Linked DNA regions of Homo sapiens: regions 1 and 3 are each linked to region 2. The links come from fine-mapping of genetic effects on plasma protein levels. A gene starts in region 2. Each other region holds a variant in brackets. All regions are shown on one strand. Distances are from middle to middle.

Region 1 (8,183 bases), 90 kb after region 2:
CAGCAATGGTGGGCACCCCTCCCCCAGCCTCGCTGCTGCCTTGCAGTTCGATCTCAGACTGCTGTGCTAGCAACGAGCAAGGCTCTGTGGGTGTGGGACCCTCCCAGTCATGCGTGGGATATAATCTCCTGGTGTGCCGTTTGCTAAGACCGTTTGAGAAGCGCAGTATTAGGATGGGAGTGACCCAATTTTCCAGGTGCCATCTGTCACCCCTCCCCTTTGCTAGGAAAGGGAATTCCCTGACCCCTTGTGCTTCCTGGGTGAGGTGATGCCTCGCCCTGCTTTGGCTCACACTCGGTGGGCTGCACCCACTGTCCTACCCCCACTGTCTGACAAGCCCCAGTGTGATGAACCTGGTACCTCAGATGGAAATGCAGAAATCTTCTGTCTTCTGCGTCGCTCATGCTGGGAACCATAGACCGGAGCTGTTCCTATTCAGCCATCTTGGAACTCGGGACTGGTTCTTAAAGTATGTGCCAAGGACTACCTGCATCAGAACTTAGGAAAAGTACATATTCAGACCTCCTGCATTAGAATGCTAAGGGTGGGGCCAAGGAATCTGCATTTAAAAAAAAATCTCCCAGCTGATTCTTACACATAAAAATGTTTGAGACTCACTAATTTAGGGATATGGTCTGATATTGCTTTGTAAGAAGGGAGAATAACATAATTTTCTCTAGTGTTCGACAAAGATCCTTAGAGATGTTTAATTCTTAGAATCAGAAATGTCAGTGTTGTCATTTTCCAAATGGAGACACTGAACCATATAAGAGCTTTAGTGACTTATAGAAGTCACACAGCAGGAAAGCTGGGAATTAGACCAGTGTCTTGACTCCTTGTCCAGTGCTCTTTCTATATCCTGGTGGTGTGCAACCCAGGCTGCCTGTCAGGATCACTTGCAGAACTTTTAAAAATAGAAGTGCCTGAGACCCACTTCAAGTGACTCTATTTTAATTGTTCTGGGTAGTGGGAGCCCAGGCATAGGTATTTCAACCTATGCCTGGGCACACCCAGGGACCTCTTTTCAAGGGATCCAAGGTAATTTCAGTGTGCAGCCAGGGATCCCTTCCACCTGTGCTTTTTGTCCCAGGGTCCCTGGTTACCTGATTGTGGCTAAAGGTGGCATAGAGCACAGGAGGAGGAGCTGTTCCTGCCACAGCTCCAGTTTGCTCTGTCTCCATGCTTAACCTTGTCTCGGTTCCTTGCAGAGTGCAAAAAGGAAAAAAAAAAAATATCATCCATTCATCAAGCATTAGTTTTAAGTACTCGCTAAAATATTTTGGCTCCCATAGACCTGACCGGGATTGCTATAAAAGATGAATAATTTGATGTTAAGAAGGTTCTTTGAGCTTCCTGGGGAAAAGGTGCAATATGAGTTTAAGTATTATTATTACGTTATAAATTTTTAATTAAAAGATTCAGCTCAACTCATAAGCTAAAGCTGGCAGTAAAATTGGCAGATAACTCCTTTATTCATTGAAACTGTGGGGTGCAGGCATTTTTCAAAAGCGGGGTGGTCATACTCATGTTTCCAGTTACTTATATGTTAAGTGAGCTGTCTTCTAGCTCCAGAGGCTTCATCAAAACAGATGGATGCTTTAAAAATATTTTATTTGGGATTTTTTTTTTCTCATGTGCATTCTCTATCATCTAAAATTTCTTTCTTATTGCCTTAGATGTGGATTATCAGAAATGACAGCCTGTGCCCACAAGGGCAAGTATTTGCATGTCTTCCCCCAAGATATTCTGTCCTCATTTTCCATCTCCTAAGAAGGGAAGGAGCAGAGGGATGCTTCTACCTGTCCCCAGGACCACTGTCATTTCTTATTTATGCTGCTGTTAACAGAAGCCACTGCTATCCTGTACTTGCTCCCTTGTGGCTTCCATGTGAGTTTAGTTTTTGTTTTCTAAAATATTTATTTAACTTAAATGTGGCCAGACTTGAAAGGGAAAGAAAATCCATAGGAAATAATATCAGGTCAGGTCGAGGCAAATCCTGCAAAGATAAGTGACAGAAGTGATCAGTTATGATGGTTGCAAGATGACAGGTGGACCACCACAGACAAGGGTTCTCAAGCCTGTGCAACCAAGCCCCCAGTAAGTGCAAATCTTGACAGCTGTTACTCCTGAACCAGCTGCCTCATGCGGTCTTGCACACGTGAGTGCTGAGACCTCACTCTTTCTGTACAGGGGCTGTGGAGGTAGGGAGTTGCTCAAAGTCCCAGAATTGTCAGGCAAATGGAGAACAACAACATCATCAGCACATACACAGATCCTTGTCAGAGCCTGTATAAAGGTCGCACAGTGACTGTTAGCAACCCTGAACACCAAACTGACTTGGGGGGATTTCCCCAGAAAGCAGTTTTTCACAAGCTTGCAACTGAAACTATCCAGAATTATGTTGGCTACTTATGAAAAATGCAGACCTACCCCCACTCGGGTCCTTCCAAACCCACTGCAGATGAAATTCATCTTCTCTCATGCCAGTCTTTGAGCAGTTTGGGGGCTGACCGAGGCTTTCAGGCAGCATCCTGTGAGTCCTATTACTGATTCAGATCTCCTTGGCACCCCATGCTGGGTCTGCAAGAGTGTGAGGCCTCGGTGTGCCTTGGTGCCCCAGCTTGCGCGGATTAGGTTCTGTTTTTCTTTATTACATTTGTCTGAGACACCTGCTAAGAGATGGGCCAGCGCTTGTTAAATTCCAAGCCAGCCTTTGAGTTTTGATTGCTATTCTTCAGTCTATTCAGTCACGCAGACTGACCTTGCATAGCCCATCACATGGTGGTTCTCAGTGTTTGACTTCATGGTAATTGCCGGGGGCGGGGGCTGGGAGCCATAAAAAAAGGCACATTTCCAGGCCCCAAGCTCAGATGCTTGTATGCAACAAAGAATCGGAATTTACCAGGCATTTCCAGGTGATTCTCATGTTGTGGAGCCTCAGAGGATTCCTTGAGATGCTTACCATGTGCACTCTATGAGCAGAGCATGAGACATGGGGTAGAACCTCTGGAAGTCATCAGCCCATGAGAAGGGCATTTGACATGCCTTCTTTTATTTTTCTTGTGAGTTCACCTCTGGCCTTAAAGTGCTTTCTGTCACTTCCTTGTTGTTGAACTTTCCAGAAGGTGGAAAGTGACCTTAAAGTTTCTTTAAAGATAAAATAATTAAAATTGGGTTTATTAAGAGAAAAGCAAGAAATCAGGTTAGATTTGCCTTCTAGGACAAAACTCTGAATCAAACCCAGTTTTTCCAACAACCTACATAACCTACATTCAGAGGTCAAATTGTCTTCTGAAAATTTGCTGGCAAATATTTGAGGTTTTATGCTTTTGAGAATTTCAGCACCACCCCCAATATGTTTAGTCGTTCACTCCCCAGAATTCCGTTAAGCACTCTCTACTTGCCAGGCCCAGAGGCTCCAGATGAACTGGGAAAGACAGCTACATAGGCAGTGATGTCCTTGTTCTTCTTTCTGGATTAATTCTATTGTTGTTGTTTTAACTTTTAAAAAATATATGAAATAAAATACATATAGCAGTGTACACAGCACTGAACAGTCAGTATTTTTGGACTCATAGGTTGTTTAGAAAGGTACTACTCAGTTTCCCAAAATATGGAGATTTTCTAACTATTCATTTCTATCTTTATTTCATTGTGGCCAGAAAAAAAAGAGCTCTATGATTTTGTTGTTTTGAAATTTTTTTGAGACTTTCTTTATTGCCCAGGTATGGTCATTTTTTGTAAATGTTCCACGTGTGCTTAGAAGAATGTGTAGCAGTCTCAGTCCCTCCAAGTGAATAGCTAAGAACCCACAAATAATTGCCCTCAATGCGTTAAATATAGAAATGAATGTTTTAAATAATGAAATACGAATCTACTAATTGCCTTTGTCAACCACAAATA[A/C]ATAAAATATTCCAATCTATGCACCAGACAAAGACACTAAGTACAAGAAGCATGCTTATTATAATAACTTTTCTTTGACCAACTGTTTTTCACGGGGCTTTTTCTCAGTGAGTTTAAGCCAGGGCCTAACTACCTTCAGCTGCAAGCCAAAAGGTCTTAAGTGTCTGGTTCTAGTTCTTCTTCAGGTTTCAAAGAGTCAGTGTCCTTTAAATATGAAAGAAACAACCTGGACCAGCCCTGCTCACAAAGCAAAACTATCCCACATGGTGGTGCCTCCTGTTCTATGAAGCATCCTCTCTCTCCAGTCATCTCTGAAGAGCATTGATTTTTGCCCCTCGTTTTCTCTGCCTTTCGTTAATTGCTGGTGGTCAAATCATTCGTCTCAGTTGGTTTCATTCAGCTTCTTCAGCCCGATCCTGAGTAAATTGTGGTGGTTGGGACAGTGTGCTCTGAGCTGTGCTGGAATGACAGTTCTTTAGAACAGCAGAAGGGTGGAATGGCACTGATATGGAACAGTGCTCCTGAGGGATGTTAGTGGATAGTAAGTGAAAAAAGCATTCTGTGGTACTAAGTTCAGAGTCCCCAAGACCCCCCTCACTTGTGATACCAGCTATAAATCTGGGCTCCCTGAGACCACCATCAGGTTCAAAAATTCACTAGGACTCAGGAACTCAGACTCACAGAACTCAGGAAAACTATTCTACTCATGGCTAAGGCTTTTTACAATGAAAGCACATAGATTAAATCAGCCAAGGGAAGAGGTGCGTAGGGCAGGGTTCAGGAGTCACCAGACATGAGCTTTCAGTTGTTGTCTTCCAGTGGGGCTATATGGACAACACCTCTTTTTTCCAGCAACAATGTATGACAATATACACGAAGTGTTGACAACCAGGGAAACTCACCAAGCTTTAGTGTCCAGAGTTTTAATCAGGGCTTAGTCACGTGGGCATGGCTGACCACAGTGTGGCTGATCTTCTTAGTTCCCTCTCCCTCCAGAAGTTGACCCGATACTGCATGGCCCATGACCCAAAGCTTAAATCACATGTTAGCATGGACTAAAATCCATGTTAGCATGGACCAGATGGCATGGCGAAGGCCCCTGCCATACATCATACTGTTGGCATAATCTGTCTAGCGTGGCCCAGAGCCCCCAGACAAACAAAGACACTCATCTCAAGCCAGACATTCCAGGGGCTAAAGGTTACCTCTCAGGAGCTGAGGGCAAATGCCTAAACCTCTCCTTGGGTAAGTTAATCCTTTACTGTACATATGGGAAACCCTTTGAGGATATAAATCAGATCATGCCTTGGCCCATGCTTAACAAACCCCAGTAACTCCCTATCACACTAAAATAATTCCCTGCCCTAATCTACAAAGCCCTGCATGATCTGGCCTGTCCCTCCCCTTCTTGGTCACTATATTCCAAATACACAGGTCTTCTTTAGTGTTTTTAAGGACACCAAGCTCTTTCCTGGCCTTTGCACTAGCTGTTGCCACTGCCTAACATGTTCTTCTCCAAGACCCATACATAATTAAATTGTTCTTGTCATTCAGATCTCAGCTTAATAAATGTCATTTCCTCAGGGGCCCCTTTCCTATCTACCCAAATTAAAAGAGTTCCTGAGTCAGTCCCTATCATGTCACCTTGCTATGTGTTCATCGTGGCAGTGAGTGTTGCCTGCTACTTTCTAGCACCTTTAGCTGTTAATTTGCCCATTTGCAGTCTTCTCCCATGCAAGTGCTGTAAGAGTAAGGCCCTTGACTCTTTATCCCCAGCACCCAGGACACCCTGAGCCTAGAGTGAGTGCTCTGTAATTCATAAAATGGATGAATGAACAGCTGGATGAATAAACAAGCTTGACAAATGCTGGTTTAAACAAAATTAAGTAGAATTCTTTACAGTAAGACCGTTCGAGCCTTTAATCTACTCTGTGGATTGTGAATCTCTTGAGCGTGTATTATGTATTCATGTTCCTGGGAACAGTTTTGGGGGAGTATTAATGTCAAAACTTGGTGTGTTGAAGGAATTGGATTCATTTTCAAGTATAACTAACTTTTAAAGAACAGTAAATCCTATGTATGGCACATTTTCTTTAAGATTTCTTTTACTGTTACTATTTCTGCTCCATCCCTTAGGCGCTGCTCTCTGCTAACTAATCTGATAAATTAATTTGTACTTGGGTATAAATATGCAATGCTGCCTTAGGATCTTTTACTCCTTCTTTTATTTATTCACTATATTGAATCCCCATTGATACCAGAAGCAGGATATAGAAATAATGACAGTGTTGGGCTGGTGAAAGATGATTTCCAGAATGGAAGGCTTTGATATCCTTCAAGTTACACCCTGAATGGCCTATTTATGCCTCATACACGTAAGTTCTAATTGTTGACCAGATTCAATAGGACAGAAGCAGATTTTGATGAATATTTTTGTAGAGTGCAGTGGTGTGATCTTGGCTCACTGCAACCCCCACCTCCCAGGTTCAAGCGATTCTCCTGCCTCAGCCTCCCGAGTAGCTGGGATTATAGGCATGTGCCACCACGCCTGGCTAAGTTTTATATTTTTAGTAGAGACGGGGTTTCACCATGTTGGCCAGGCTGGTCTCAAACTCCTGACCTCAGGTGATCCACCCACCTCGGCCTCCCAAAGTGTTGGGATTATAGGGGTGAGCCACCTGCCTTCAAAATTCTTTCTATTGACTAGATTAGTTTATGCTATAGAAAATTATGTTATTTCTGTTTGAGACTTCAGAATTGATGGATATTAGACATTTACTGTCAGACACTAAAGATCCTAGATTCTTTTTTTCTGTGGAAAGAAGGTCCATGGTTTTTCACTACTACAGAGAACTCACTGGGCACATACTTTTTTCTAGATACCTTCTTCCTACTTCACCCTCCTTTAGGGGGAGGATCAGATGCCAGACTTTGTGGGTAAAGAAATCATAAAGGCTCTGGTTAATGTTTTCTCTGTCAAGGTTGACTTTTTTGATAGAGCTGATCTGTGTTTGTTTTGTACTCATTCCTAGGGCACTGCCCCTCCTGGCCTCTTCCCCTTGTTGGGATTTGGACCCTACTTCTTACTCCCTAGTTGATATGTGGCTCCTCCCACATAGTAAATTGGCCTGGCATCACTCCCTATGGTGACTCTTCTTTCAGGAGGGCACATCATCACTGGGATTCAGGAAGCTGTGAATTCCCTCTAACCCTGTGTCTTATATTCTGCAATAGTCCCCATGCCATGTTTGGGGAAACTTTAGCTCTAACTAGAAGTTGAAAGCGTTCTACATTACACAACACTATGCTGAGAAATCACTCTTAGAAACAAGGCTTGGGTGCTTCTGCTCCCAGCCAGCCAATGTCCACGTGTCCATAATGCCCAAAGGGACGCTTCTATCCATTGACTTTATTCTCTATAGCTGGTCACCTCCTGAGTATACCAGCTAATTGCTGAACAAGTTTTAAATCAATCATGAAAATAGTTGTTTCAATGTGTAAATTACTGCCGCAGTACCTATTTACAGCCAAGATTTTACAGACGGATGCCTTGATAAATGTGTTTTTATTTGCTGTGAATAATTTCTGTAGAGTGCGATTGAAAAAACGTAATTCACATTTTCTATTAAGGCAGCAGCAGTGTGCAAAGAATTGTCAATGATCTTGTGACCCCAGTTAGGATTATTCTGGGATTGGGGTTGATTCTGGGGAACTCAACTATGCTAGCAGGAAAACTGTTTGTTAAACATGAACAGTTAGAAAACCCCTTTTCAGGCTGGGCGTGGTGGCTTACCCCTGTAATCCCAGCACGTTGGGATGCCAAGGGATCATGAGGTCAGGAGTTCGAGAACATCCTGGCTGATATGGTGAAACTCCATCTCTACTAAAAATACAAAATTAGCTGGGCACAGTGGCATGCACCTGTAGTCCCAGCTGCTCGGGAGGCTGAGGCAGAATAATTTCTTGGACCTGCGAGGTGGAGGTTGCAGTGAGCTGAGATTATGCCACTGCACTCCAGCCTGGGTGACAGAGTGAGACTCTGTCTCAAAAAGGAAAAGAAAACCCCTTTTCGCGGCCTGAAACATAAATATGAAAGGTAAAACCAAAGCCAGAACACAGTTCTTCACCCCAGACTCTCTTTGTTGAAATCATGGGCAAAGGGAAGACCTGATGACAGGTGTCCTCAGGGAAGGCTGAGCTGCAGGGCTGTGCCCCAAGCCTGTTAGCCGTGCTCCAGAGGGCTGTGCCCTCACAGCTTGCTTGGGCAGAGGTTCACAGAA
Region 2 (8,183 bases):
CAGGGATGCCCTTTCTCACCACTCCTATTCAACATAGTTTTGGAAGTTCTGGCCAGGGCAATTAGGTAGGAGAAGGAAATAAAGGGTATTCAATTAGGAAAAGAGGAAGTCAAATTGTCCCCGTTTGCAGACGACATGATTGTATACCTAGAAAACCCCATTGTCTCAGCCCAAAATCTCCTTAAGCTGATAAGCAACTTCAGCAAAGTCTCAGGATACAAAATCAATGTATAAAAATCACAAGCATTCTTATACACCAATAACAGACAAACAGAGGGCCAAATCATGAGTGAACTCCCATTCACAATTGCTTCAAAGAGAATAAAATACCTAGGAATCCACCTCACAAGGGATGTGAAGGACCTCTTCAAGGAGAACTACAAACCACTGCTCAATGAAATAAAAGAGGATACAAACAAATGGAAGAACATTCCATGCTCATGGGTAGGAAGAATCAATATCATGAAAATGGCCATACTGCCCAAGGTAATTTATAGATTCAATGCCATCCCCATCAAGCTACCAATGACTTTCTTCACAGAATTGGAAAAAACTACTTTAAAGTTCATATGAAACCAAAAAAGAGCCCGCATCGCCAAGTCAATCCTAAGCCAAAAGAACAAAGCTGGAGGCATCACACTACCTGACTTCAAACTATACTACAAGGCTACAGTAACCAAAACAGCACGGTACTGGTACCAAAACAGAGATATAGATCAATGGAACAGAACAGAGCCCTCAGAAATAACGCTGCGTATCTACAACTATCTGATCTTTGACAAACCTGAGAAAAACAAGCAATGGGGAAAGGATTCCCTATTTAATAAATGGTGCTGGGAAAACTGGCTAGCCATATGTAGAAAGCTGAAACTGGATCCCTTCCTTACACCTTATACAAAAATCAATTCAAGATGGATTAAAGACTTAAATGTTAGACCTAAAACCATCAAAACCCTAGAAGAAAACCTAGGCATTACCATTCAGGACATAGGCATGGGCAAGGACTTCATGTCTAAAACACCAAAAGCAATGGCAACAAAAGCCAAAATTGACAAATGGGATCTAATTAAACTAAAGAGCTTCTGCACAGCAAAAGAAACTACCATCAGAGTGAACAGGCAACCCACAAAATGGGAGAAAATTTCCACAACCTACTCATCTGACAAAGGGCTAATATCCAGAATCTACAATGAACTCCAACAAATTTACAAGAAAAAAACAAACAACCCCATCAAAAAGTGGGCAAAGGACATGAACAGACACTTCTCAAAAGAAGACATTTATGCAGCCAAAAAACACATGAAAAAATGCTCACCATCACTGGCCATCAGAGAATTGCAAATCAAAACCACAATGAGATACCATCTCACACTAGTTAGAATGGCAATCATTAAAAAGTCAGGAAACAACAGGTGCTGGAGAGGATGTGGAGAAATAGGAACACTTTTACACTGTTGGTGGGACTGTAAACCCGTTCAACCATTGTGGAAGGCAGTGTGGTGGTTCCTCAGGGATCTAGAACTAGAAATACCATTTGACCCAGCCATCCCACTACTGGGTATATACCCAAAGGACTATAAATCATGCTGCTATAAAGACACATGCACACGTATGTTTATTGCGGCACTATTCACAATAGCAAAGACTTGGAACCAACCCAAATGTCCAACAATGATAGACTTGATTAAGAAAATGTGGCACATATACACCATGGAATACTATGCAGCCATAAAAAATGATGAGTTCACGTCCTTTGTAGGGACATGGATGAAATTGGAAATCATCATTCTCAGTAAACTATCGCAAGAACAAAAAACCAAACACTGCATATTCTCACTCATAGGTGGGAATTGAACAATGAGAACACATGGACACAGGAAGGGGAACATCACACTCTGGGGACTGTTGTGGGGTGGGGGGCGGGGAGAGATAGCATTGGGAGATATACCTAATGCTAGATGACGAGTTGGTGTAGCGCACCAGCATGGCACGTGTATACATATGTAACTAACGTGCACATTGTGCACGTGTACCCTAAAACTTAAAGTATAACAATAATTAAAAATAATAATAATAATAACAATATGTTATGCTGTAGTTGCCCTCCAAATGCTTGTCTTCTTCAGCTGAATTAATAGAAGCAAGTTGTTTAAAATACAGAAAGCAACAGTACCGGCCTGTACTGGTCAGAACCCACAGAGGGAAAGTAGGGCCTCTTTCTGGAAACAAACTTTGATTGCTGGGGGTGGATATCATTGAGAAACTGGGTCAGAGAAAGGCCACAGGCTGGTGAAAAGTCTGGGAATCGTCGCACTGAAGGAAATGGCTATGCGTGACCCAGAGAAGAGAAGACTCAAGGGAACACGAAGCCATCTCCAAAGCCATGAGATGCTCTCTTAAGAAAGAGGAATTCTATTTAGCTGCGTGGGCCCACAGAGGAGAGCCAGAATCAGTGGGTAAAGGTTTCAGGGAAGTAGATTTCAGTTCAATATAAGAAAGACTTTTCTAAGAGACCTGCTGGCAAATATAAACAGGCTACCTTGATGAGTATTCAGTGAGGCTGAATGACCACTTATTAGAAATGTCAGAGAGGAAACTCAAGCATAGATCCCATGTTTGGATCAGATAAACTTGAATGTTCCTTTCAGTCCCAACATTCTCTGTTAAAATTAGATTGTACTCCAGCCAAAGAACAGATTTCAATGGCACTTAGATATATCTCTTATAATTGTTAAGAACATGTGCATGGTCAACAAATATTTCTGACCGTTGTTGATTTGGTGGATATTTAAAAAGATTTAGAAAATTTACTAAGAAAGAAAAATGGAATAAATATACAAACTGTAGAGGACAGTCACAGGACCTTGGGAAGGTGGATGGTCCCCTACTAAGATTTTGGGGTCCCAAAGTACAAGCTGTAGCAAAACTGGACTTGTGCTAGTCAACATCTTGTTTATTTTGTGCAAAGCTGCCATCTCAATTTCACACACACGCAAAAGCAAAAAACAAAATAACGGAGCTTGACTTATCTACTAAAAGCTAATCTATCCTGAAAGAATGTGTTAAAATTACTCCCAGTAAGAGCTGACACAGTATAAAAGCTGTAATTTCCCAACTACCATCAGTATGTGAGATTTTGGGAAAGTCGATAGAAGCAAAGGATGATTTAGTAGCTGTATCAGGAACATAGTTTTCATATCCACAAATTGCTACAGAATCATGGAGTGTCACTGGCTCTAAAGCGCTGCCGGTGGACGCCACCTCATTAGCTGACACCTCTTAATCACTGTGGCTGGAATGTGGGCTTCCCTATCTTGAAACCGACCGCGGGCGATCAGAGCCGGCGGCGAGTGAGAGCTGCAACCACTGCGGGCTGAGCTCCGACACCAGAATCGGCGCAGAGACAGGGGACCGACCAGGCCAACTCTCTCCACTTGGGGCTGGGAGGGCAATTACCACCGACCCCCTTGGCTTCCCATCTACGACCCCGGAAGCCTCCCCTCCTCCAGGTACCCAACCTTCTGCGTGTCACCAATCACCCGCTACCCCCGCCTCCCCGCCCCCGGGAGCGCCTCCCAGGCCAAGGCTCCGAGGGCCCCGCGCATCTCCAAGACCGGACAGGGGTCCTCACTCGCAACACCTGCGGCTGGCAGAGGGAAAATACCAAGGGTGTGGGGGAGGGGGAGAGTGTCTCTCAGCCGCCTCAGATGGTCCTTCGGGCTCCCTGGGGACGCGCAGAGCTTCGGCGGAGATGGGAGCGGGGAGGGGTTAACGCGGGAAATTAAGAGACTCGGGCAATTGGCGGTGCTCAAGTTAACCGGGTCTGTGGCGAGAGTTCTGGGGTTGGGAGCTGCCGGCCGCGCACTCGCCCCGGGTCTGCAGCCACCGCCGCGGCGGTAGTTCTAGGGCGGAGCGCTCTCCCGCGCCGCGCCGCGGGCTGGGGGCACCAGAGGCCGCGCGGAGGCCGGGGCGGGCACCTGAGCTGGCGCGCAGCCGGGGCAGGGGCTGCAGTCCAGCGCCGGGGAAGGGGCGACCGAGCTGCGTGCGTGTGCAAGACCGGCCGCCGGCGCCTCGCGCCCCGACAGGTGCAGGCGCGCGGGCTTCCCATTGGTCGCGGCGGCGGGCCCCTTTCCCCGTCCCCGCCCTCGCCAGTCTCCGGCCACGCCGCGGCGCCGGCTGGGTTGGCAGAGGCGCGTGCTCGCGCGCCCGCGCACCCCTCGCCCCGTCCCCGCCCCCCCACTCACCCCGTCCCCACCCACTCCCTCTCTCCGCGCCGCCGCCGCCGCGCGCTCGCGAGTTCAGGTAGCGGGCGCGCGGGCGCCTCCGCGGGGGCGCGCGGCCGGGCTCCCGTCCTCCCCCAACACCCGCCCGCTCGGGGGCGCCTGGGGAGGGAGCGCGCGGGCGGGGGAGCTGGAGCCGAGCGCCGCCGCCGAAGCTTCCGTCTCGCTCGCTCGCGCAGCGGCGGCAGCAGAGGTCGCGCACAGATGCGGGTTAGACTGGCGGGGGGAGGAGGCGGAGGAGGGAAGGAAGCTGCATGCATGAGACCCACAGGTAAGACCGACAGTCCCGGAAGGGTCTTCCATTCCGAGGAGGCGCGCGCAGGCCGGGGAGGGGGAGTTGGTGCCTGGTGCAGCTCCCCAAGGGAGAATTTTTTTTTTTTTTTTGACAGCGCAGAGAAATCTCACTGGGGACTGGGGCAGTAGGATCGATCCCAATCCCGAGGAAAACCAGAGAAGTAGCTGGGGGAGACGGTGCCACATTGTGAGATTCCCAGAGTGAAATGTATAGGCCCAGGGAAAAGTGTCTTCGCGGCCCCGAGACGCGGGGAGGCTCTAGACTTTCCTGTGGTGGGCACAGCTGCTGAATCCCGGGGACCGGCGCGGAGCCAATGTGCGCTAACCCCTGCCCTCCCTCCTGTCCTCCATCCCCCAGCACGCGCAGCATCCCACGGCGGCTGTTACTCAGTGCACCCGGCTCGGGGGAAGGCGGGGGACCTCGCCGTGGGAAAGGGGGCGGGGGCCGCGCGGGGGAGGAACCAGGATGGAGCCTGGGAAGCCGAGGCGCCGGGTCCCAGAGCGGAGGAGGGGGAGCGTGGCCCCCGAGCCCGGACAGACTGGCTTATTGTGGTGTTCCGCTTCTGGTTGCAGACTCTTGCAAGCTGGATGCCCTCTGTGGATGAAAGATGTATCATGGAATGAACCCGAGCAATGGAGATGGATTTCTAGAGCAGCAGCAGCAGCAGCAGCAACCTCAGTCCCCCCAGAGACTCTTGGCCGTGATCCTGTGGTTTCAGCTGGCGCTGTGCTTCGGCCCTGCACAGCTCACGGGCGGTGAGTGACCCAGCTGTGGTGGGAGGGCCTGGGGATGGCCCAGAGGGGAGAAAGAGCCTAGCTGCCAGGACAGCCCTGCACCCCTCCCCCATACACCCAGACTTCAGGAGGATCTGACAACGCGAGGGTGCCTGCGTCCCAGCCTATGGCCGCCCTTCTCCGAAACCGCTGGAGTTCCCTGAAAATTCCCATGTGGAGCCCGCACAGATTCACACACCCACATTCTGTCTGGAGCTTCCCACCAGCCTCCGGGCCTGGCTTCTCCCAAGGAAAGACAATAAAGCCTGGCCCATTATTCCCACTTTGGCCAAGGAAGCGGGGGCGGGGGGGGGAGGGGTGGGGGGTGGGGGCAGTGGGGAGTGGTGTATTTGTGGACCTCTTGCCAATGCCTTCAGCAGATAGAGGTCAGATTTCAGCCTCTGGATTTAAGCAAGAGTTTAAGAACCACCTTTGAGAATGTGAAGGGTCTGGAAACGTGGTCAGACTGGCTGCGGGGCAGGTTTATTTGAAAGTTAACTTTCCCTTCCCCTGTGTGTGCAGCATGTATGTGTATGTTGGGGGCGTGGAGGAGGTGCAGAGGTATTCTTTCAGGTGTGCCTCTGACAGATTGCTTTGCTCATCGAGGTATGATTTCAGGGAATAAAGTCAGTTGCTCTTCTATGAAGTAGAAGTTAGCTGAAATAAAATTGATAGCCTCAGCCTCCGTGGGCGGCTAATCTATAACATATTTGGTTCTGGGGGAGGGGTATCTTTTAGTTGTGGTAGAGGAAGACAGATGGAGTTCCTGTCTGAATTTGAGAGCCTAGTCTCCCTGCCTCCACTGCTCATTGCTGTCCATCATTCCTGTCCATTGCAAACGTTCTCTAGAGCTTGCTGATGTGGACGTTAAAAGGAGCTGAGATACTGTTAATATATAAATAAATTATCTTTGGTTGAAAAGCAAGTATTGACTGATGTAAATAAACCATTTTAGCGTTTTAAAATATTGCTGTTTCAGAGAATTCAAAGGTGAAAATGGAAAAAAAATGAGTGAAAAATTAGCAAAAGTGGAGGAGAGGTGTAATAAGTTGGGCTTTAACACAGAGTAATCAATAACCCAGGCATTCCACTTAGACATCTGAAAGATGCCCAGAGTATAAAGGTGTTTATTGCAATGTGCATATCTATCAAAATTAGTGAGAAAACACTTGCTTTGGGTGGACATTGGTTTTTATTTTTATTTTTGTATTTTTTTTTTAAGAAGGAATAACTTTTTGGATGCTTGTAGTTTTTTATAGAGATTTCTCTGAGGCAAGCTTCCTCTTCATGGAGGAGAAGGTCAAGTGTGAGGCCAGGCCAGCACCTGTGTGCCCTGCCAGGGCTCTGGTCACAGCCTCTAATCTGCCGTGGACACCAGCTCTGCTTCACATATGAGTGGGAATAGACGGGCAGAACAGTATTGCGTGGATCTGGATCATTTCCTCCCCTCCTCTCTGCTTTTGCCTCCCAGTTCTAGCTTTCATTCTCTCAAACCAGGTCCACATGATTTTCCATCTTCTTGGTCCATTTCTCTTATGTAGATGACAGACTAGTTAATCAAGGTTCATTTACATTTGTCTTGACTATTGTTATTGGATGGGTGAGGTCTGAGCACAGCTGAGATTTGTTTTGTGCTCTTGGTTCTGCTTGGTCGTGTTTACAGAGCATCCTCCTCAACATTTCAGAGCTCAGTGTACATCATGGCCACCTCGGTCTTATGACAGTCACCTATGAGGTTCCTATAGCATGTCTTTTTTCCCTGCCTTCCTGTGGGGGATCATGCCAGGCAAAAATATCCAGAGCCTTGGAGAAGAGGATGAGAGTAAGGGTTGCCTGTCACCTGTCAGTCTCAGAGCTCTTTCTTTTTAGGCACTCATATGCTGCAGGAAGCTAGCCATCAGCTGCGTTTCACTTTGAACTCCTTCAGGCTGAGAGTGTGATTTCTGGAAGAGTATTTATCACTTCACAGTTCCTCTATGAATAAACCGTTTGGGCAAGCAAGGGTGGTGGGGGATGTCCTATAGAGTTCATTATACAGAGATTTTCTTTTTTAGGAAAGAAATGCACATGGAGGCTCCAATAAGGCAATAAAAGCAAATACACCTTAGCTCTAGACTTGTGCTTCTAAAACTTTAATGTGCATACAAGTCACCTGGGATCTTGTTAAAAGGTGGATGCTGATTCATTTGGTCTGGAGTGGGGCCTGAGACTCGGCATTTCTAATAAGCTCCCAGGTGAAGCAGTTACCACTGATCCAAGGACCACACTTTGATTAGCCATGCTTGAGACCAAGGCATTCCTTAAAATAAGTTGCTTCTGCTCCAGACTTTCTGCCATCATTCTCAATTACTGAATGCAAATGGCCTGTGAGGAGCAGAAGTCTCACCCAATATCTAATCTTCAGGTGATACACAGAGCTGAAAATCAGCCCTCGGAGAGTGCTTTTTTTTCATCCACAAAAAAGTGTATATTTAATGGACACTGTTCTGAAATGTGGATTTTCATTTTTGATTGCTTTCAATGGAAAAGGAACACCGCAATGGCAAGATATAATCGTCTCAGCTAGGAGAAAAAAAAAGCATGTGCCCAGTACAAGTATTGAAGAAAAAGCCTGAACTAGAAAGGCAGAAATTGAGAAAATGATCAAAGAAAAGTAGGAACAGGAACTCCATCAAAAATGAAATGCTTTGTCTTAGAAAGCCAGAGCTCCGATTCAGTTCTTTGAACCCTAGGGAAGCTTTTATGAGCCTGACTTGTCCTGAGATGATGTTTGGGTGGCTCTCTCCAGGTTGTCTTTTGTCGTTAAGGAAGAGTGCCCTCATTTGGGGCCACTGA
Region 3 (8,183 bases), 120 kb after region 2:
TTGGCTTGCGTTCTGTAAAAAGATAATGCCTGACTCCGAACTGTGCCCACATCCTCTAAAGTTAGAGTGTGCAGAGAGGACAGAGCCTTCATCCCATGGCACATTTTTTTTCTTGTGGCTTCTGAAGAAAAGTCCAGGACTTTGTTTACATTCTGGCCAGTTTGTTCTTTGATGGATGACAACCTAATGAATTTTCTTTTTCTTTTTCTTTTTTTTTTTTGGAAACGGAGCCTCACTCTGTCTCACCCAGGCTGGAGTGCAATTGTGCAATCTCGGCTCACTGCAACCTCCGCCTCTCAGGTTCAAGCGATTCTCCTGTCTCAGCCTCCCAACTAGCTGGTACTACAGGCTGCACTGCCATACCTGGCTAATTTTGTGTTTTTAATAGAGATGGGGTTTTTTACCATGTTGGCCAGGCTGGTCTCAAATTCCTGACCTCAGGCCTTGGCCTCCCAAAGTGCTGGAATTACAGACATGAGCCTCTGCGCCCGGCCCCTAATGCATTTTCTGACCCCGTCTTCTCCATTCCTAGGAAGGGATTTCATTGGTCCAGGCCTTAAGAAGGGGAAGCATGACTGGAGTTTAAAAAAAAAAGCCAATTATATGGAAATTCATATTTTAAAACTAGTCCTTAGTTCAAGCTATCACAAGTAAACACCTGTGCCTACATCAGTCTGTATTTTCATACTATAAGTATATTATTCTGATGGAAATTATTTTGAATTGGGAAGAAAAGTTAATTTGTTCAGGAAGCTGGGAAGCCAAGAATTCTATAGCCAACCATGGCTAAAGCAGCATGCCAATGGGACCTTTGCCTACCATTCTGCTTGACATTTTTAAAGACTCTGTGGCCCTTGGAGTTAGCTGTGGGGGACTCTACTGTCCCTGGAGCATAACGATCCCCAACCTGGTTTCAGCTGCTGCCTCATTCCTTGGCGTTCGATGGCTTGTCGCCGCTTCATTCCAGCCTCTGCCTCGGTCATCACATGGAGTTCTCCCTTGATGTCTGTGTCTTCACATGGCCGTCTTCCCTCTGTGTGTCTCGCCTCTTCTTCTTTTATATATATATATATATATTTTTTTTTTTTTTTTTTAATTATACTTTAAGTTCTAGGGTACATGTGCACAACGTGCAGGTTTGTTACATATGTATACATGTGCCATGTTGGTGTGCTGCACCCATTAACTCGTCGTTTACATTAGGTATATCTCCTAATGCTATCCCTCCCCCCTCCCCCCACCCCACAACAGGCCCTGGTGTGTGATGTTCCCCTTCCTGTGTCCAAGTGTTCTCATTGTTCAATTCCCACCTGTGAGTGAGAACATGCGGTGTTTGGTTTTTTGTCCTTGCAATAGTTTGCTGAGTTAGAATGGCGATCATTAAAAAGTCAGGAAACAACAGGTGCTGGAGAGGATGTGGAGAAATAGGAACACTTTTACACTGTTGGTGGGACTGTAAACTAGTTCAACCATTGTGGAAGACAGTGTGGCAATTCCTCAGGGACCTAGAACTAGAAATACCATTTGACCCAGCCATCCCATTACTGGGTATGTACCCAAAGGAATATAAATCATGCTGCTATAAAGACACATGCACACGTATGTTTATTGTGGCACTACTCACAATAGCAAATACTTGGAACCAACCCAAATGTCCAACAATGATAGACTGGATTAAGAAAATGTGGCACATATACACCATGAAATACTATGCAGCCATAAAAAATGATGAGTTCATGTCCTTTGTTGCCTCTTCTTCTTATAAGGACACAAGTTGATATGTTTTGGATGTTATTTCCTCCAAATCTCATGTTGAAATTTGATTCCCGGTGTTGGAGGTGTGGCCTGGTGAGAGGTGATTGGATCATGGGGGTGGATCCCTCATGAAGGGCTTAGTGCCATCCCCTTGGTGATGAGTGAGTTCTTGCTCTGAGTTCACATGAAATCTGGTTGTTTAAAATCATGTGGTATTTCCTCCCATGTCTGGAACCCACTCTTGCCATGTGACACACCTGTTCTTCTTTGCCTTCTGCCATGATTATAAGCTTCCTGAAGCCTGTGCCAGAAGCAGATGATGGAGCCATGCTGGTACAGCCTGCAGAACCATGAGCCAATTACACCTTTTTTCTTTATAAATTACCCAGTCTTGGATATTCTATTATAGCAATACAATGAACAGACTAACATAACAGTCATATTGGATTAAGGGCCCACCCTACTATAATATGACCTCAATTTAATTACATCTGCAGTTACCCTATTTCCAAATAGGCCCACATTCACAGGTACCAGGATTTCAGTGTAAGAATCTGGGGGATACCCAATTCGATCCACTGCACATGCTCTCCCTGCCTTAGCTTTGGAAGAAGCAAACTCCCTTCCATCTTCCCTCTAGCTCTTGCTCCCAGGTTTAAAGGGCTGTCTTCGAATCTTCCCAAACCCCAGTTGGCCAGCATCCTTTGGCCTGCCCACAGCCCCTTCCTGAGCTAACCTTGCCTCTAGCCCGGTACACCGCACCCTGCTTATGCCAGCTGAGCCAAACAGAGGCTTCCCTGTATCTGTCAGGGTTCCTCCAGCTCTCTTTTCCTCTAGCTCTGGAGGCCTCAAGGCTTTTCCGAACTCTAACCCCATTGTGCATAATACATGTCTTAGCAGATAATGAAATCGTTGCTCTTCCACTTGGCTGTTGGGAGGCACTATGCTCCCTTTCTCCTGTGTTCACTTAAAACCCCATGGCATGACTCAGTAAGATATGGCAGCTTTGGAGTCAGCAGCACATAAGGTCCTGTCCCAGCTCGCTGTTAGTTTGCTAGATGACCTTGGGCAAATAACTTCATCTTTCTCAGCCTCAATTCCCTTATCTTTGCAAATGAGGCAATAGCAACACCTGCTCTGCAAAATTGTTGTTAGGATTGAGTGACATAATGTGCATATGTTGCCTCATAGTACGTTCTTGTGAAATGTCATTACTGCTCTCATTTCATCTCACTGGCCTGTAATGTAGCTAGTAATAGTCACTGTCTCTTTTTATTGAGCATTTCCTTTTGTGCCAGGCACTTTGTGCTTGGTGATTTACGGATATTATTTCTAATTCTTATAAATTTCCTGCAATGTAGGTATTACTATTTCTGTTGACAGATGATGGAAACCAAAGCTCAGAAAGAAATGAAAGTAAAATGAATGAAAATGAAAATAAGATGAGAAAGTAAAATGCCCAAGGTCATGGCCACTAAGTGTTTGAGCCAGGATGTGAACCCAGGAAAGTGCACCTTTGCACTCTTGCACCTTTGCACTAGAGGCAGTGCAAAGCTGCCTCTCTAGAGTCTCTCATTAATCCACTGATTTTCTTATGTCTTCTTAGCCTGTCCTTTCTCACATTCTCACCCTCACACTTTCTCCTATTCTGTTCTCCTAGCTGACTTTTCCCTTTCTTCCTCTCTTTTCACTGTCCATGTCTTCTAAGCCAGTGTTTCTTAAATTTGTTCAGATGTCAGAAAAGCATGGTGCCTTTCACAGAATAGCATGCATTTTTTGTTTTATGTTTTTTGCAGAACACTAAGAAATACTGATAAAATTCTATCATGTAAACTTTAGAATTACCTTTGCTAGTGGAAACTGTGGCTGTTTATTTTCTATGGATAATATAAACTTATTATAGAACTAACTATAATATAGAACCCATAAGTGCATACACACATACACTGAAGCATAGCTAGGAACAAAGCATGACCAATTGCTTCCTCCTCTTCTTAACTCACTACTCAATTATGTATTTCCTCATCTATTAGGACTTGCTAATAGACAAGAATGAGAAGGCACTAAGGATTTTCCTAAAAATTTATGGGAGGAAGACTGGAGGCTCAGAAAATTGTATACATGAATGTATGTGTGTCTGTGTGGCACTTTGGTCCAGTATGTGGATACACTAGCAACATTTAACTTCAGTGTCATCTCTGATAATAGACGGGTTTGCTGATTGCAGAGAGGGTCAGAAATGATCCACTCTAAATGCTCCCTTACCTGTGGGCTTCCTGGGTTACATGGTGGGACACACGCTCCATTTTAATCTTGTGCCCCTGATTTCCTTCCCTTACAAAAAATTCAGATGCCCCAATTACCTTTAGGAGTCCTGACTGTAGGGGGATCATGTATTGGAAAATGTTCACAGACGTCAAAACACTCTGACGCCACAGATGTCTTGTGATTTATTTTCACCTTGTGGTGGTGAAGACTGACCTCAGTGTAGCCACTGTGGCTCCTATCAATGCAAAGAAAGCAAGCAACCTCATCAGAACACAGAAACACGTGTCAGCTTTTGATTTCAGCACCAGCCATTCCCCGCTGCTGTCAGAGGAAATCACGGGTTTGCACCTGCTCCCTCACCTGTGTGCTCCTCTGTGGCTTCCTTGTGGCTTCGAAACTAGGCACACTTCAGATTTCTTATGTGAAGCCATTTTTTTTTTTCAGTGAAGTTTCACAGTTGTCATCACATGCATTTTGTATTCCTTCAGGGACATCCTAACGTAGTGACTCAGAGATGGAAAGCAGGTGAGAGCCCCTCCCTCAGCGCTGCTGGGTACTATTGATCTTAAATTTGATCTGTCAGCACATCTCTGAGTAGGTAAACACCATGCTCCATCCTGCTCACAAACAAGCAAAGCCCCAGCCTCAT[G/C]ATCATTGGCTTCCTTCAGTAGACACATGTGTTGGCCTTCTGTGTTGTTACAACAAAACACAAGTGGAAAATGTAATGTGCTGTATAATGTTTATTGATTTTCCCTGAGCTAAAAGCAAAGTTTCAGACGTAGTCATGGAGATGGCCAGGACTTTGGTACAGAGGGTTCCGTGCAACTTCCTGGAATCATTACCCAAATTTAGATCAGACTGGGGATGGCTGGTGCAATGGCAGTTTTGATGATTAGAATTCAGCAGAACTCCTGCAGGCAGAGGTTGGGTGGTTCTGTACAATATGGGAGCAGAGTCCCTGTCTTCCTGTTCCCTCTCAGAGCCACATAGACAACATGCTGGGCTGTCTTGATGCGATGCCTTTGCACTCAGTATACAGGCTCACTGGCTTTCCTGCCACTTCTCCACGCTCCTCAAGGCCAACTTGAGACTTGAGACCGTAGCATTAAGAGTCAGCTTTACTACTGAGCTCAGCTACAGAGTTTCCTCATGATCTGGAACAGCACTTCACTTCCCAAACTGCACTGTGCATGTGAATCACCTGGGAATCTTGCTGAAATAAAGTTTCTGATTGAGTAGGTGTTGCTAGAGAGTACCAATTTCTAATAAGCACTTAGTTGATCCCAAAATGGACAGTCCATGGACTGCAATTCATATAGCAAGAGTCCGGTGAAAGGTGAAGACCCAGACCAGATACCATGACAATTTAATTTGCATACTGGCTCCACTGAATGTTGTAAACCATCCATCCTTAGCACGTAGGGGATGGAGGGGGTCTCCTGACCATTGCAACTGTGGGGACGGTGCTTCTCAACTTTGTCTACCCGTTAGAATCACCCCAGGGCTTTAAGACCCATCCAAGCCCAGGACCCCCTCCAGACCAATTAGGCAAAGCTCCCCAGGTGATTCTGTGCAGCCAGGGTTGAGGAACCAGTGGCTTAACTCATTATTACACTCTTCAAATGCAGCACTAACATGGCAGAAAGAGGTGTGACAGTAATAATAGCAACAAACATCTGGAGCATGCATGTTCTGCTGTTTCACAAAGCAGATTCACATCTGTTATTTCTTCCTTATACCAACTGTATATGGTAGACCGCTGCTGTAAGAAGGTTACCAAAAAGGGATGATGGCTCAAACAAAATAGAAGTTTATTTTCACCTAGTGGCATTGAGTGAATATTGATCCGCCAGTGCCTCTTCTCCACCCAGTCATTCAGGGGCCAGTGGAAGCTCTGCTGGCTTCAGGGTGGGCTTCTGAGGTCCCCTAGGAGATCATTTCCATTCTAGGCAGCCAGAGAAGCATGGGAAGGCTTCATGGATCAAGCGTGAAAGTAGTAGTTATCATTTCTCTTCATATTCCATTGGCTAGAACTTAGAGAAACAAGGGACAGTGGGCAATGTGGACCAGCTGGGTGCTCGTGGAACATGGGTTATGGTGAGCAACCAGCAGCCTCTCCCACGAGCTGTGTGGGGTAGATGTGAATGCACAGACTAAAGGAGCAAGTCTTTCCTACATGAAGAACACCCGGGGGGCTGTATGGACCTTTGGAACTAGTAAGAATGAAAATACTCAGTCAAAGCACCTGGGCTCAGTGGCTCAGAAGGATTTAGTAGGTTAAAATATTCTATAATACTACATTAGTATTCATTCATTGTACATTCTAAATATTCATTTAGTAAGTTAAAATATTCTACATTCTTCTGCTTCCCCTGCCCCATGCCCTGGAGTTATTTGTATGGATAGTTGCAAGGCACACACTGGTTTTAAGCCTCATTTTATTATTTTGCATGTAATGAAACATATAAATTGGTTAAGGACTGTGATAAGTGATACATAGTTCTCATCTCAGCCCCCCTCCCACCTCTGAGTGGTGGCCTTGCCTCACACTTCATTCGGAAAAGGGGAGCCTTCAGAGGGCAGCTTACTCACATCTCCACCACCCTGGCCACCGATCTGCTGAGGCCTGTGTCCAGCACTCATGCTTCCCTCCAGCCCCTCCTACGCCTGTCAGAGGCCAGCCCCTCCTTCCACTCATGTGGAAGATCACATCTTTCTCCTCCTGAATGACTGCCCTCCTGCCTGGATTACCAACCTTGTACCCTGTGTTGAACCACTCCTGCCAACGTCTTAACAAGATCAAGAGCTCTGGGGTGGGGGCGGGGCTCTCCCTGGACCCTCCGGCCTCTGCTTTACTGCTTCCCTGCAGCAAACTTCTCTAAAGAGTCACCTGAGGTTTCCATCCCCTTTTACTCCCCAACTCACTGCAGAATGGCTTCCCCTCTGCCACTGTATCAAAGCTGCTTTTCTTAGGGTCTCTACTGACTCCCATTTGGCCAAATCCAATGGCCACTCTTCTTTTTCCATCCTTCTCAGCTTGTGAGGAGCTGCTCCCTCTTCCTTGGGACAGTCTCCCCTCGCGGCTTCCATGATGCGCCCTAGTCTCCTCTGCCATCTTTTTCGTCCCTGTAGGGTGTCTCAGCATTTGGACTGGGTCCCGTTCCCTTTTCTGTCTGCCCTCTCCCCTTATGTGAGTGCGTGCAGTCCCGTGGCTGTAAAGATTATTTCTATGCTCATGATTCCTGAGTTCTGCATTTATCCCAGACTCTTTCTCTGGCTGCCTAACTGACCTGGATGACTTTCCCACTGGAAGCTCAAACCCGACCAGTGCAAAACCAAGCTCTGTACCACTCCCTTGCCATGAAACAAATAAACCCAACAAAAACCTAGCATAGTCAGTAGTACCACAATCGAGCCAGGTCAGAAATCTGGGAGTTATCCTTCTTTTTCTCCTAGCCGCCTAATCACCAAGCCCTATTTAGAAACAGAGGAATAACATTCAAGTCACTCTTCTTCCCACCACATTGGCTGCCACTGTCCTGGTCCAGGCCGCCATCATCTCTCCAGGCATGGTAGCCACTTCCTGGCAGTCCTGCCATGTCTATCCCTGCTCTCTAACAGCCTGTTCTCCACCCAGCTAGCTTTTAAGAAATATGCCAGTTCCCACTCTTTGCAGTGTCCCTTCACACTATGATAAAATCCCAACTACTTGCCGTGGTTCCATGCAGCTGCACACACAGTGTCCCGCCTGCCTCCCATCCCTCGTGCTGTGTAGCCCTCTGTCTCCTGCACACTCAGCCACCATCGGCCTCTCTTCACTGCCTCCAGCCCACCTTCACATGTGCCATCCTCTCTGCCAGGCACATCCTCCTCCAGCACTTCCTGGACCGAGTCCTTCCTAGTTTTTATGCATCGTGCATTCCTGTATGCATTTATGATCGGATTAGGGCCTCTCATCTCTCTGTAGTGAAGGGACCAGTGATTTGGTTACTGTTTTCTAATACGTTGCAGACCAATAATACACAATAAAAACAGATACTAGATAAAATAAAAAGACAAACACATAATACAAGTCCCATTTTTAACTATCAGATTCAACTGTAGTCAAATTGCATTATTTAAATGCAATTTAGATATTGAAAGTATCTATCAAAATAGAA

Which allele goes with the higher level. Alleles are on the strand shown, and positions count from the first base shown. The strength of an association depends on the size of the effect and on how common the allele is.
For the plasma level of the protein whose gene starts at base 4,432 in region 2, allele A in region 1 goes with a higher level than allele C (strong association).
For the plasma level of the protein whose gene starts at base 4,432 in region 2, G is the high allele of the variant in region 3 and C is the other (moderate association).

Evidence for each region. PIP is the posterior inclusion probability: the model's chance that the variant is causal. Protein levels are from antibody-based Olink assays in UK Biobank. Linkage for the fine-mapping came from a reference panel and not from the study's own genotypes, which makes the PIPs less certain.
Region 1: its variant is fine-mapped to the plasma level of the SUSD4 protein (UK Biobank, PIP 0.98).
Region 3: its variant is fine-mapped to the plasma level of the SUSD4 protein (UK Biobank, PIP above 0.99).

What each region holds. Positions count from the first base shown.
Region 1 is chr1:223,270,354-223,278,536 of GRCh38, reverse strand. The region is part of intron 3 of SUSD4 (sushi domain containing 4); the gene reads left to right. Among named protein-coding and RNA genes, the nearest start is that of SUSD4, 90 kb to the left of the region's middle. The variant A/C (reference allele first, on the strand shown) is at 3,904.
Region 2 is chr1:223,360,425-223,368,607 of GRCh38, reverse strand. SUSD4 (sushi domain containing 4) reads left to right here and starts at 4,432. Exons shown (of 9, transcript NM_017982.4): 1 at 4,432-4,551; 2 at 5,148-5,330. The coding sequence starts at 5,183.
Region 3 is chr1:223,245,131-223,253,313 of GRCh38, reverse strand. All of the region lies in intron 5 of SUSD4 (sushi domain containing 4), which reads left to right. Among named protein-coding and RNA genes, the nearest start is that of TLR5, 110 kb to the right of the region's middle. The variant G/C (reference allele first, on the strand shown) is at 4,673.